Linked DNA regions of Homo sapiens: region 1 is linked to region 2. Evidence: fine-mapped expression QTL. A gene starts in region 2. The other region holds a variant in brackets. All regions are shown on one strand. Distances are from middle to middle. Region 1 overlaps PREPL (prolyl endopeptidase like). Region 2 holds the start of SLC3A1 (solute carrier family 3 member 1).

Region 1 (5,216 bases), 78 kb after region 2:
CAAGAGGAAAAGCAAAAATTCTTACAATGGTCTACAAAGTCCTAAAGAATCTTGTCCCATTACATTGCTGACCTAATCTACTGCTACACGCCAAGCCCACTTATTCCAGTTAATCCATACTTGATGTTTCTTGAACATATCAAGCTTGCTCCCATATCAGTTTCTTAGAACTTGGGCCCTATGCCCAAATACCTCCTTAAAGCTATTGCTCAAATGTCATCTTCTAAGTTAGGCCTTTCCTAACCATTTTACTAAAATAACACCCCTCCCTATCCCCACACTGCCTATTCACATCTTCCCCGTCTTTTTTTTCTTTTCTTCTTCGCCATAACTATCGCTTTTGACCCACTTTGTATTTCATTCATGTAATTCTTTTTATTTTTTTGAGAGATGAGGACTTGCTTGTGTCCACCTCAGCTGGAGTGCAGTGGCATGATCTCGGCTCATTGCAACCTCTGCCTCCTGGGCTCAAGCAATTGATCCTTGATCTCAGCTCTCAAGTAGCTGAGACTACAGGCGCCACCATGCCCAGCTAATTTTTGCATTGTTTGTAGAGACAGGGTTTTGCCATGTTGCCCAGGCTGTTCTTGAACTTCTGGGCTCAAGCAATGAGCCCACCTCAGCCTCCCAAAGTATATTACAGGCATGACCCATTGCACCTAGCCTTGTTCATGTAATTCTTTATTCTTTCTCTTTTCCTTTCTCAAGTAGGATGGTAAGCTTCACAAAGGCAGGGATTTTTGTTTATTTTGTTCAGTGTTATATCTCCAGTGCCTAGAATGGTGCATAGCAGGTGTTCAACAAATATTTGCTGAGTTGAATAAAATTCAGACAGCATAAAACATAAAATGAAAAAAACATATTTAACAAAAGATATCACAAAGTGAAAAAAATAATAATAGAACAAATATGGAGAAGATATCTACAGCACATATAAAAGACAAAGGACACGTAAAGAAATCTTATGAATCAGTAAGAAAAGGACAGACAATTAAAAGAAGGTCAAAAGACAAGAATAGGCATTCAAGAAGAAAAACTATAGGATCAATAAGTGTAAGAAAAGATGCTCACTGGCCATGAGTGGCAGCTCATGCCTGTAATCCCAGCACTTTGGGAAGCTGAGACAGGAGGATTGCTTGAGCCCAAGAGCTTCAGACCAGCCTGGGCAACATAGCAAGACTCTGTCTCTATTTAAAAAAGTTTTGGATTTTGGAGCATTTCAGATTTTGTATTAGGGATGGTCTACCTGTACTACAAGATATTAAAAAAGAAAGGTACTGTGAATGAGGCTAACTTAGGTCTACTTCTGACTCTACTAGTTTTCTTACTTAACTTTAGGCTCTGTGGCTTTAGTTTCTTCATTTGTTTAGAAAGAATACACACGCTTCCTGATTTTAAGACTTATTACAGGCCAGGCGCAGTGGCTCATGCCTGTAATCCCAGCACTTTGGGAGGCCAAGTTGGGCAGATCACCCTGAGGTCAGGAGTTTGAGACCAGCCTGGCCAACATGGTGAAACCCTGTCTCTACTAAAAATAAAAAAAAAATTAGCTGGGCATGGTGGCAGGCACCTGTAATCCCAGCTACTCGGGGGGCCTTGGCAGGAGAATTGTTTGAATCTGGGAGGCAGAGGTTGCAGTGAGCTGAGATGGCACCACTGCACTCCAACCTGGGCGACAGAGCGAGACTCCATCTCAAAAAATAAATAAATAAATAAATAAAACTTATTACAAAGCTATAGTAATTAAATGTGTAGTACTGGCATAACGACAGACATATACAAAAATGAGATGAAAGTGAGAGTCAAGAATAAACCATTGAATTTATGGTCAGTTGATTTTCAGAAAGGACACCAAGACAATTCAATGGAAAAAGAACACTCTTTTCAACAAATGTTGCTCAGACAATGGATATCCACAAGCAAAATAATAAAGTTGTACCCCAATCCCTTGCACTATAAACAAAATGAACTCAAAATGGGTCATAGGGCTGGGCATGGTGGGTCACACATGTAATGCCAGCACTCTGGGAGGCTGAGGCAGGAGGATTACTTGAGCTTAGGAGTTTGAGACAAGCCCGCACAACAAAGTGAGACCCTGTCTCCACACACACAAAAAATCAAAAAATTAGCTGGGCATAGTTGTGGGCCCAGCTACTTGCAAGGTAAGGCAGGAAGACAGCACGAGCCCAGGAGGTTGAGGCTGCAGTAAGCCATGTTTGTGCCTCTGCACTCCAGCCTGAGCAACAGAGTGAGGCCCTCTCTCAACAACAACAACAACAAAAAAAGTATCAAAGACCTAAAGAAAGAGCTCAGATGGGATGATTTCTGGGGTATGTTTTCTAGCAATAAAATTTATGGTTATATGAAAAGAAAAAATGCATTAATTTAACTATTAATTCATTCTATAAACACGTTGCTTATCTACAATGTGGCAGTCGTTATGCTATGTGCTGGCAAGATGTGTATTATAAAATTCTTGTCTTTAAGGACCTCCCAATATAATGGGGAGACAGGAAAAGTTTAAAATGATGTAGTAATAGCAGAGAGGTAAATATAGTGATTTGACTCCTATGGCTTCAACTACTATCTACATGTAACAACTCTCCCCAAATTCCAGACTCATATATCCAACTGCTACTGAAATCTCCACTTTACTAGTGAGTTATATTTATCCTTTCCTCCTCTCTTTTTTTTTTTTGAGATGGAGCCTCGCTCCCATCACACCAGGCTGGAGTGCAGTGGCACGATCTCAGATCACTGCAATCTCCACCTCCCGGGTTCAAGTGATTCTCCTTCCTCAGCGTCCCGAGTAGCTGGGATTACAGGCATGCGCCACCAGGCCCGGCTAAAATTTTTGGATTTTCAGTAGCAATGGGGTTCTGCCATGTTGGTCAGGCTGGTCTTGAACTTCTGACCTCAGGCAATCCACCCGCCTCAGCCTCCCAAAGTGCTAGGATTATAGGCGTGAGGCGCCACGCCCGGCCTTCTTCACCCTTAAGATCTGAATATCAGTAAGATTACATACATGACTGTGAAATAAGTCCATCTGAAACATAAAGATAAACCAGGTACGTTTTAGAATTTTGAGATTTTGGAATGTTAACTGGGTACCTTATCTCAGTTTACAGGGGAACAACACTCTAATCAAATGCAGTAACATTTTAGAGCTAAACATCTACTAATTGGGATAAAGATCATAATAGCTTTGTGTCAGTTTAGGTCAGGTTTTGCCCATTCTCAA[C/T]AGCCTCCAATCAGTTAAAAAAAATCATTTGTTTTCTAACAGGCTTTTGGATTTTAGAATCCAAAGAGATGAGGAATTATCACTCAAGCTCTCTAGTCTTCCATTAAGATGTCTCAAATAAAATGTAATCAGGGCCAGCTGCGGTGGCTCATGCCTGTAATCCCAGCACTTTGAGAGGGCAAGGCAGGTGGATTGCTTGAGGCTGGGCTTCCAGACCAGCCTAGCCAACATGGCGAAACCCTGTCTCTACTTAAAATATAAAAAAATTAGCTGGGTGTGGTGGCACATGCCTGTAATTCCAGTTACTCAGGAGGCTAAGGCACGAGAATCACTTGAGCCTGGGAGGTGGAGGTTGCAGTGAGCAGAGACTGTGCCACTGCACTACAGACTGGGTGACAGAGTGAGACACTGTCTCAAAAAAAAGCAATCACCCTGTAAAGACTCTCATCTTCACTCATCTGAGTTACTGACAAGGCTTCCTACTTCCAATTTATTCTCTATTCTGTCAGAGTGATTCTTCTAAAATGCAAATCTGATTGCGCCTACATTTTTCAATAACATTCTATTGCTTAAAAGGATGTAGCTCAAACTTTTTGCAAGATATACAAAACTACATATTATATATATATATATATATATATATATACACACACACACACATATGAATATGAGACTATTGCAGGAGCTGCTAACCTGTATTGTAGAAATAGGCAAATGACATGTTTAACCAAAGGATTTAGTCTTCTCTCTTTAATTATACAATTTCATTTTGTATCTTGTTCAAATTATCACTATTAAAGATTTTGGGAATTATTTTTTAGGCAGAGCAGAGCAGGATGATGTGGAAGATAAAGAAATGTGATATCTGGATGGATGGATGCTAGTCTTTGAATATCACTGGCTGGCTTGTAAGTATAATAGAGTAAGTTCATCTTGCCATCTGGCTAATGTAAAATGGAAAGCAGAGGTACTTGCCAATAAGAACTGCAGAACTGAATGAATTCAATAAGGTTTAGATCGGCAACACTTGATCATCAAACATTTCCAATTTCTAAATTCAGGTCCAGTGTCAGTCAAGTTGTGAGTTCCAGAATTACCTGATGTGAACTTCAAAAAACAGATCTGGGGCCGGGCATGGTGGCTCACTCCTGTAATCCCAGCACTTTGGGAGGCCGAGGCAGGTGGATCACCTGAAGTCAGGAGTTCGAGACCAGCCTGACCAACGTGGTGAAACCCTGTCTCTACTAAAAAATACAAAAAAATTTAGCTGGGCATGGTGGTGGACGCCTGTAATCCCAGCTACTTGGCAGCTGAGGCAGGAGAATTGCCTGAATCTGGGAGGTGGAGGTTGCAGTGAGCCAAGATCATGCCATTGCACTCCGGCCTGGGCAACAAAGCAAGACTCCGTCTCAAACAAACAAACAAACAAACAAACAACAGATGTGTAGGCCTCAACCATAGAGATTTTCATTACGCAGATGTGGGGTGAGATCCAGGAATCCGCATTTCTAAAAAGCTCTCCAGGATTTCTGATATACAGTTAGACTGCAGAAGTTGATACTGAAGAGTCCCCAAACTTTTAGGCAGTAATTTGTTGCTAAGGTAACAAGAGGTATAGAATCATGAAATTTTAGCACCTCTAAGACTTTCTACAGAATGACAAGTTGAAACTCCCTATTTTTTTTTTTTTGAGACAGGGTATCCTTCTGTCACCCAGGCTGAAGATCTCACTGTGCCTCAACCTCACTGCAGCCTCGACCTCCCAGGCTGAATCAATCATCCCACATCAGCCTTCCAAGCAGCTGGGATTACAGGCGTGCGCCACCATACCCAGCTAATTTTTAGTCTTTTTGGTAGAGTTGGGGTTTTGCCATGTTGCCAAGGCTGGTCTCGAATTCCTGAGCTCGGACAATCTGCTCGCCTTGGCCTCCCAATGTTCTGGGATTACTGGCGTGAGCCAGTATGCCTGATCAGA
Region 2 (5,501 bases):
GACTGTATGTGCTCCTGATGAAAGGGACATCATAAATCATTACATTCCTTTTTGTTGTTGTTGAGACAGAATCTTGCTCTGTCACCCAGGCTGGAGTGCAGTGGCGTGATCTCAGCTCACTGCAACCTCTGTCTCCTCGGCTCATCTCAGCTCACTGCAACCTCTGCCTCCTGGGCTCAAGTGATCCTCCCACATCAGCCTGCCTCCTGAGTAATTGGGACTACATGGGTGCACCACCATGTTCAGCTAATTTTAAATTTCTTTTGTAGAGATGAGGTGTTACTATATTGTCCAGGCTGGTCTCCAACTCCTGGGCTTAAGCTATCTTCCCACTTTCTCTATTTAACCATGTATAAGAAAAATAATTTCCCCCCAAAGTCATTTTTCTTATACCTGGCTAAATAGAGAAAGCTTTAAGCTTTAAAAAAAGTTGTGGTAAAACATCTGTAACATTTCAGTGGCATTACGTATGTTTATACTGTTATGCAACCATCACCACTATCATCTCAGGAATACTTTTCATCATCCCAAACTGAAATTCTCTGCCCAATGAACAATAACTCCCCATTATTCCCTTCCTCCAACCTCCAGTAACCACGTTTCTATTTTCTGTTCCTATGAATCCTACTACTCAAGATACCTCATCTAAGTGAAATCACACTTGCCCTTTTGGGTCTGGCTTATTGCACTTAGCATAATGTCCTCCAGGTTCATCTATGTTGCAGCATGTGTCAGAATTTCAGTCCTTTATTTATGTATTGGAGACAGTCTCACTCCATCACCCAAGCTGGAGTGCAGTGGTGCTATCTCAGCTCATTGCAACTTCTGCCTCCTGGGTTCAAGCGATTCTCCTGCCTCAGCCTCCCAAGTAGCTGGAATTACAGCATATGTCCCCATGCCCAGCTATTTTTTTTTTTTTTTTTTTTGAGATGGAGTTTCACTCTTGTTGCCCAGGCTGGACCGCAATGGCGTGATCTCCATTCACCGCAACCTCCGCCTTCCAGGTTCAACCGATTCTCCTGCCTCAGCCTCCCAAGTAGCTGGGACTACAGGCATGCGCCACCACACCTGGCTAATTTTGTATTTTTAGTAGAGACGGGGTTTCTCCATGTTGGTCAGGCTGGTCTTGAACTCCCAACCTCAGGTGATTCACTGGCCTCGGCCTCCTAAAGTATTGAGATTACAGGCGTGAGCCACCGCGCCTGGCCTAATTTTTGTATTTTTAATAGAGATGGGTTTTGCCATGTTGGCCAGGCTGGTCTCCAATTCCTGACCTCAAGTGATCCACCCGCCTTGTCCTCCCAAAGTGTTGGGATTACAGGCGTGATCCACCATGCCCAGCCTTCATTCCTTTTCAAAGCTGAATAATATTTCACTATATGTATAACCACATTGTTTATCTATCCATCTGATGATAGCTACCTGGGTTGTTTCCAATTTTTAATTTTTTAATTTATTTTTAGTTTCATTTTATTTTTATTTTCTTTCTTATTTATTTATTTTATTTTTTGAGACAGAGTCTCCCTCTGTCACCCAGGGTGGAGTGCCATGGCTCGATGTCAGCTCACTGCAACCTCTGCCTCCTGGGTTCAAGTGATTCTCCTGCCTCAGCCTCCTGAGTAGCTGGGATTACAGGCATGCACCACCACGCCCGGCTAATTTTTGTATTTTTAGTAGAGACGGGGTTTCACCATGTTGGCCAGGCTGGTCTTAAACTCTTGACCTCGGGTGACCTGCCTGCCTCAGCCTCCCAAACTGCTGGGATTACAGGTGTGAGCCAAGATGCCCAGTGGAGATTTTTTTTTTTTTTGTGGGATGGATTCTCGCTCTTGTCGCCCAGGCTGGAGTGCAGTGGTACGATCTCGGCTCACTGCAACGTCTGTCTTCCGGGGTCAAACGATTCTCCTGCCTCAGCCTCCCGAGCAGCTGGGATTACAGGTGCACACCACCACGCCTGGCTAATTTTTATACCTTTAGTAGAGACGGGGTTTGGCCATGTTGGCCAGGCTAGTCTCAAACTCCTGCCCTTGGTGATCTGCCCGCCTCGGCCTCCCAAAGTGCTGGGATTACAGGCATGAACCACCGCGCCAGTCCCGAGATTTTTTTTTTAAACCTCTGTACTTTTACCCTTTCTTCCTTGGCTGGACTTTGTCCAGCTAGGTTTATTTATAAACCACACAAAGTTCATTAACAAGACCAAGCATTCAGCAAGCCACTCTTCCACCTCCCTTACTGCAGGAAGGCACTCCGAAGACATAAGTCGGTGAGACATGGCTGAAGATAAAAGCAAGAGAGACTCCATCGAGATGAGTATGAAGGGATGCCAGACAAACAACGGGTTTGTCCATAATGAAGACATTCTGGAGCAGACCCCGGATCCAGGAAGCTCAACAGACAACCTGAAGCACAGCACCAGGGGCATCCTTGGCTCCCAGGAGCCCGACTTCAAGGGCGTCCAGCCCTATGCGGGGATGCCCAAGGAGGTGCTGTTCCAGTTCTCTGGCCAGGCCCGCTACCGCATACCTCGGGAGATCCTCTTCTGGCTCACAGTGGCTTCTGTGCTGGTGCTCATCGCGGCCACCATAGCCATCATTGCCCTCTCTCCAAAGTGCCTAGACTGGTGGCAGGAGGGGCCCATGTACCAGATCTACCCAAGGTCTTTCAAGGACAGTAACAAGGATGGGAACGGAGATCTGAAAGGTACATGCCCAGAGATCATTTAGGGTGGGTGCCAGGATGAGATTGGTTTATGGTTCTTTTGTTCTTCAGAACCAAATTATGCCTGGGTTGTTCAGTAAGCACATTCCATTATGACTGGTCATGCCAAGTTGCTCCTTGTTTATGATATTCTTAGAAAATCACTCAGCAGAACCCAGCAGTTATTTTACTAGCTGAAGGGCTATTTGCTGAAGGCCTTTGAGCCAAACGAGTTGTTTAATTTATTGCCCACTAAGTACATACAGTTGTTCAGTCATCAATTCTAACTTCTTAGAGCAGCCTTCCTTCTAAAATCTATGTCCTGTTTCTGGGGACTTTATAGTTGAATATGTCAGGGTGGCAGTTGGGAATTGCTTTCCCAGTATACGAAGCAGCTAGTTTGGCTGTGTGGCTGGGAGTGTATTAGTGAATAAAGCATAAATAATATTTTTTTAAAAATCAAGTGATATCTGTAAAAAGTATAGGCTGAGTCTTAAAGTTTAAATTCTAAAAAAGGAAGGGAAGTAGAAAAGGGGTAGCAGTATGCATTCGTCATTACTTGAATTAAGGATTGTTTAAAACCATGTCCGTATTAGTATAAAACAAGTAAAGAATTAACCAGGGGTAGTGGCGCATGACTGTAGTTGCAGCTACTTGGGAGGCTGAGGTGGGAGGATCGCTTGAGCCCAGGAGCTCTCAGCCAGCCAGCTTAGGCAACATAGGGAGACCCCGTCTCCAAAAAGAAAAAAAAAAAAGTGAAAAATTATTTTTTAAAAGCTAAGTTAATTTCTTGGTGGGTTATGTGTAAAACATCCTTACAATATATTGCTCAAACCAGAACATACTTCAGAGTAAAATTATGCCAGATGGCAGGCATACACTGGGAACTTCTGAGCAAATTGGTTGGTATGGTCACTCTACTTCAAGGCAACAATAGGAAACAAATAAGGAAACTAACAAACTAATGTTTTACAATGATAATTGGTTTGAAGAAAACAAAACAGGATGATATGAATGTGGAAAGTAGGAATGGGCTTAATGTATCTTTAAAATGCTACAAATGAATTCTTGAAACCTGCAGCTTTCTTTAATCACTAGTAGAAGGCTTTTCTTTTTCACGCTCCTATCATTCTCTCTCTTCTTTTTTTTTTTTTTTTTTTTTGTGATGGAGTTTCACTCTTGTTGCCCAGGCTGGAGTGCAATGGCATAATCTCAGCTCACTGCAACCTCCGTCACCTGGGTTCAAGCAATTCTCTCGGCTCAGCGTTCCGAGTAGCAGGGATTACAGGCATGCACCATCATGCCTGGCTAATTTTGTATTTTTAATAGAGACGAGGGTTCTCCATGTTGGTCAGGCTAGTCTCGAACTCCTGACCTCAGGTGATTTGCCCCCCCTTGGCCTCCCAAAACTCTGGGATTACAGGCATGAGCCACCGCATCCGGCTGTATCATTCTCGTTTTAAAAATCATCCTGCATTGTCACTCATTGAAGAAGAGTGTATCTGTCCTTCATGGTGCAGCTCAAACCCATTGCCTTCATTACTCTTTCTTTAGCCTCCCTAATCAGACCATGGGCTCCCCACCCCAGATCTTCGGCTTTGGATGTGTTTCTAGCATCCTTTAATCCTGCCTTGAGTGACTCCCTTTCCCCTGACTCATGACCTATGACCTGCTGCCTTTTGCACATTGAGTGCTTAGGAAAAGCAATGCTCTGACTGCATAGACCTAAAGCCCTAAATCCAGAGATATGTTTACCACTTCCTGGCCCTGCCTTCTTAATAATCTCCTTCTGGATAGGTCCAACATTCCTGTAAACATGGTGGTTTCTAATCAGCTCTGATGTTTGTCATTTCCAATACCTGTTCTTGGAGGAATGTTTTACTTCCTGCAATCCATAGGCATTTGTCTTTGAGGTTGAAGGGATTTCATTGTTGTTATTATGAAGATCCCATTCCAGCTTTGAGTCTGGTTTTGGTGATTGCCCTCTCTCCTTCTAAAATGTGGGGTGGGATCCCTTGTTTACTTTCTCCAGCCACTTTGTTTTCATCCTCATGTTCCTTTGTGCCTCATCATAAGATATATTTTGTTGCTGTGCTGGCTTAGATCAAAACCCTCTTGCTGCCTGTTGATACCGTGTGAGATCTTGCAGCTACCCATATGGGGGAACTGGGGTACAGAGACAGAAATAAGCAGCCTGTCAGGCCAGGCGTGGTGGCTCACGCCTGTAATCCCAGCACTTTGGGAGGCCGAGGCAGGTGGATCACGAGGTCAGGAGATTGAGACCATCCTGGCTAACACGGTGAAACCCCGTCTCTACTAAAAAAATACAAAAAAAATCAGCTGGGCGTGGTGGCGGGTGCCTGTATTCCCAGCTATTTGGGTGGCTGAGGCAGGAGAATGGCGTGAACCCAGGAGGCGGAGGTTGCAGTGAGCTAAGATCGCACCACTGCACTCCAGCCTGGGCGACAGAGCGAGACTCCATCTCAAAAATAAATAAATAAATAAATAAATAAAATAAAATAAAATAAATAAGCAGTGTGTTATAGGGGAAAAGCCCAGATCCCAGGTGTCGAATGACTCTGTGCTTTGGAATTAGTGACCTTCAGCCTGCGGTGTGGCCTCTGACAGTCTAATTCTAGGAAGTCACATCAGGATTACACAGAAAGTTACTGGAGATTGAATTCTAGACTCAAGTTGCTGAATATGCATTTGGGACTCTGAACTAGAAGGAGAAAACACATTATCTGCTCATTATCCTACAAAGTTCTAAATACAAAGTTTCATTTCCACATGTCTTCTCAGCC

The links. PIP is the estimated chance that this variant, and not a neighbour inherited with it, causes the effect. A credible set is the group of variants that fine-mapping cannot tell apart.
Region 1: its variant is the best candidate, but not a certain one, in a credible set for the expression of SLC3A1 in cerebellum (GTEx, PIP 0.52).

The regions. Positions count from the first base shown.
Region 1 is chr2:44,351,893-44,357,108 of GRCh38, forward strand. The region is part of intron 1 of PREPL (prolyl endopeptidase like); the gene reads right to left. Among named protein-coding and RNA genes, the nearest start is that of PREPL, 7.0 kb to the right of the region's middle. The variant C/T (reference allele first, on the strand shown) is at 3,242.
Region 2 is chr2:44,273,266-44,278,766 of GRCh38, forward strand. It overlaps SLC3A1 (solute carrier family 3 member 1), which reads left to right and starts at 2,215. Exons shown (of 10, transcript NM_000341.4): 1 at 2,215-2,700. The coding sequence starts at 2,271.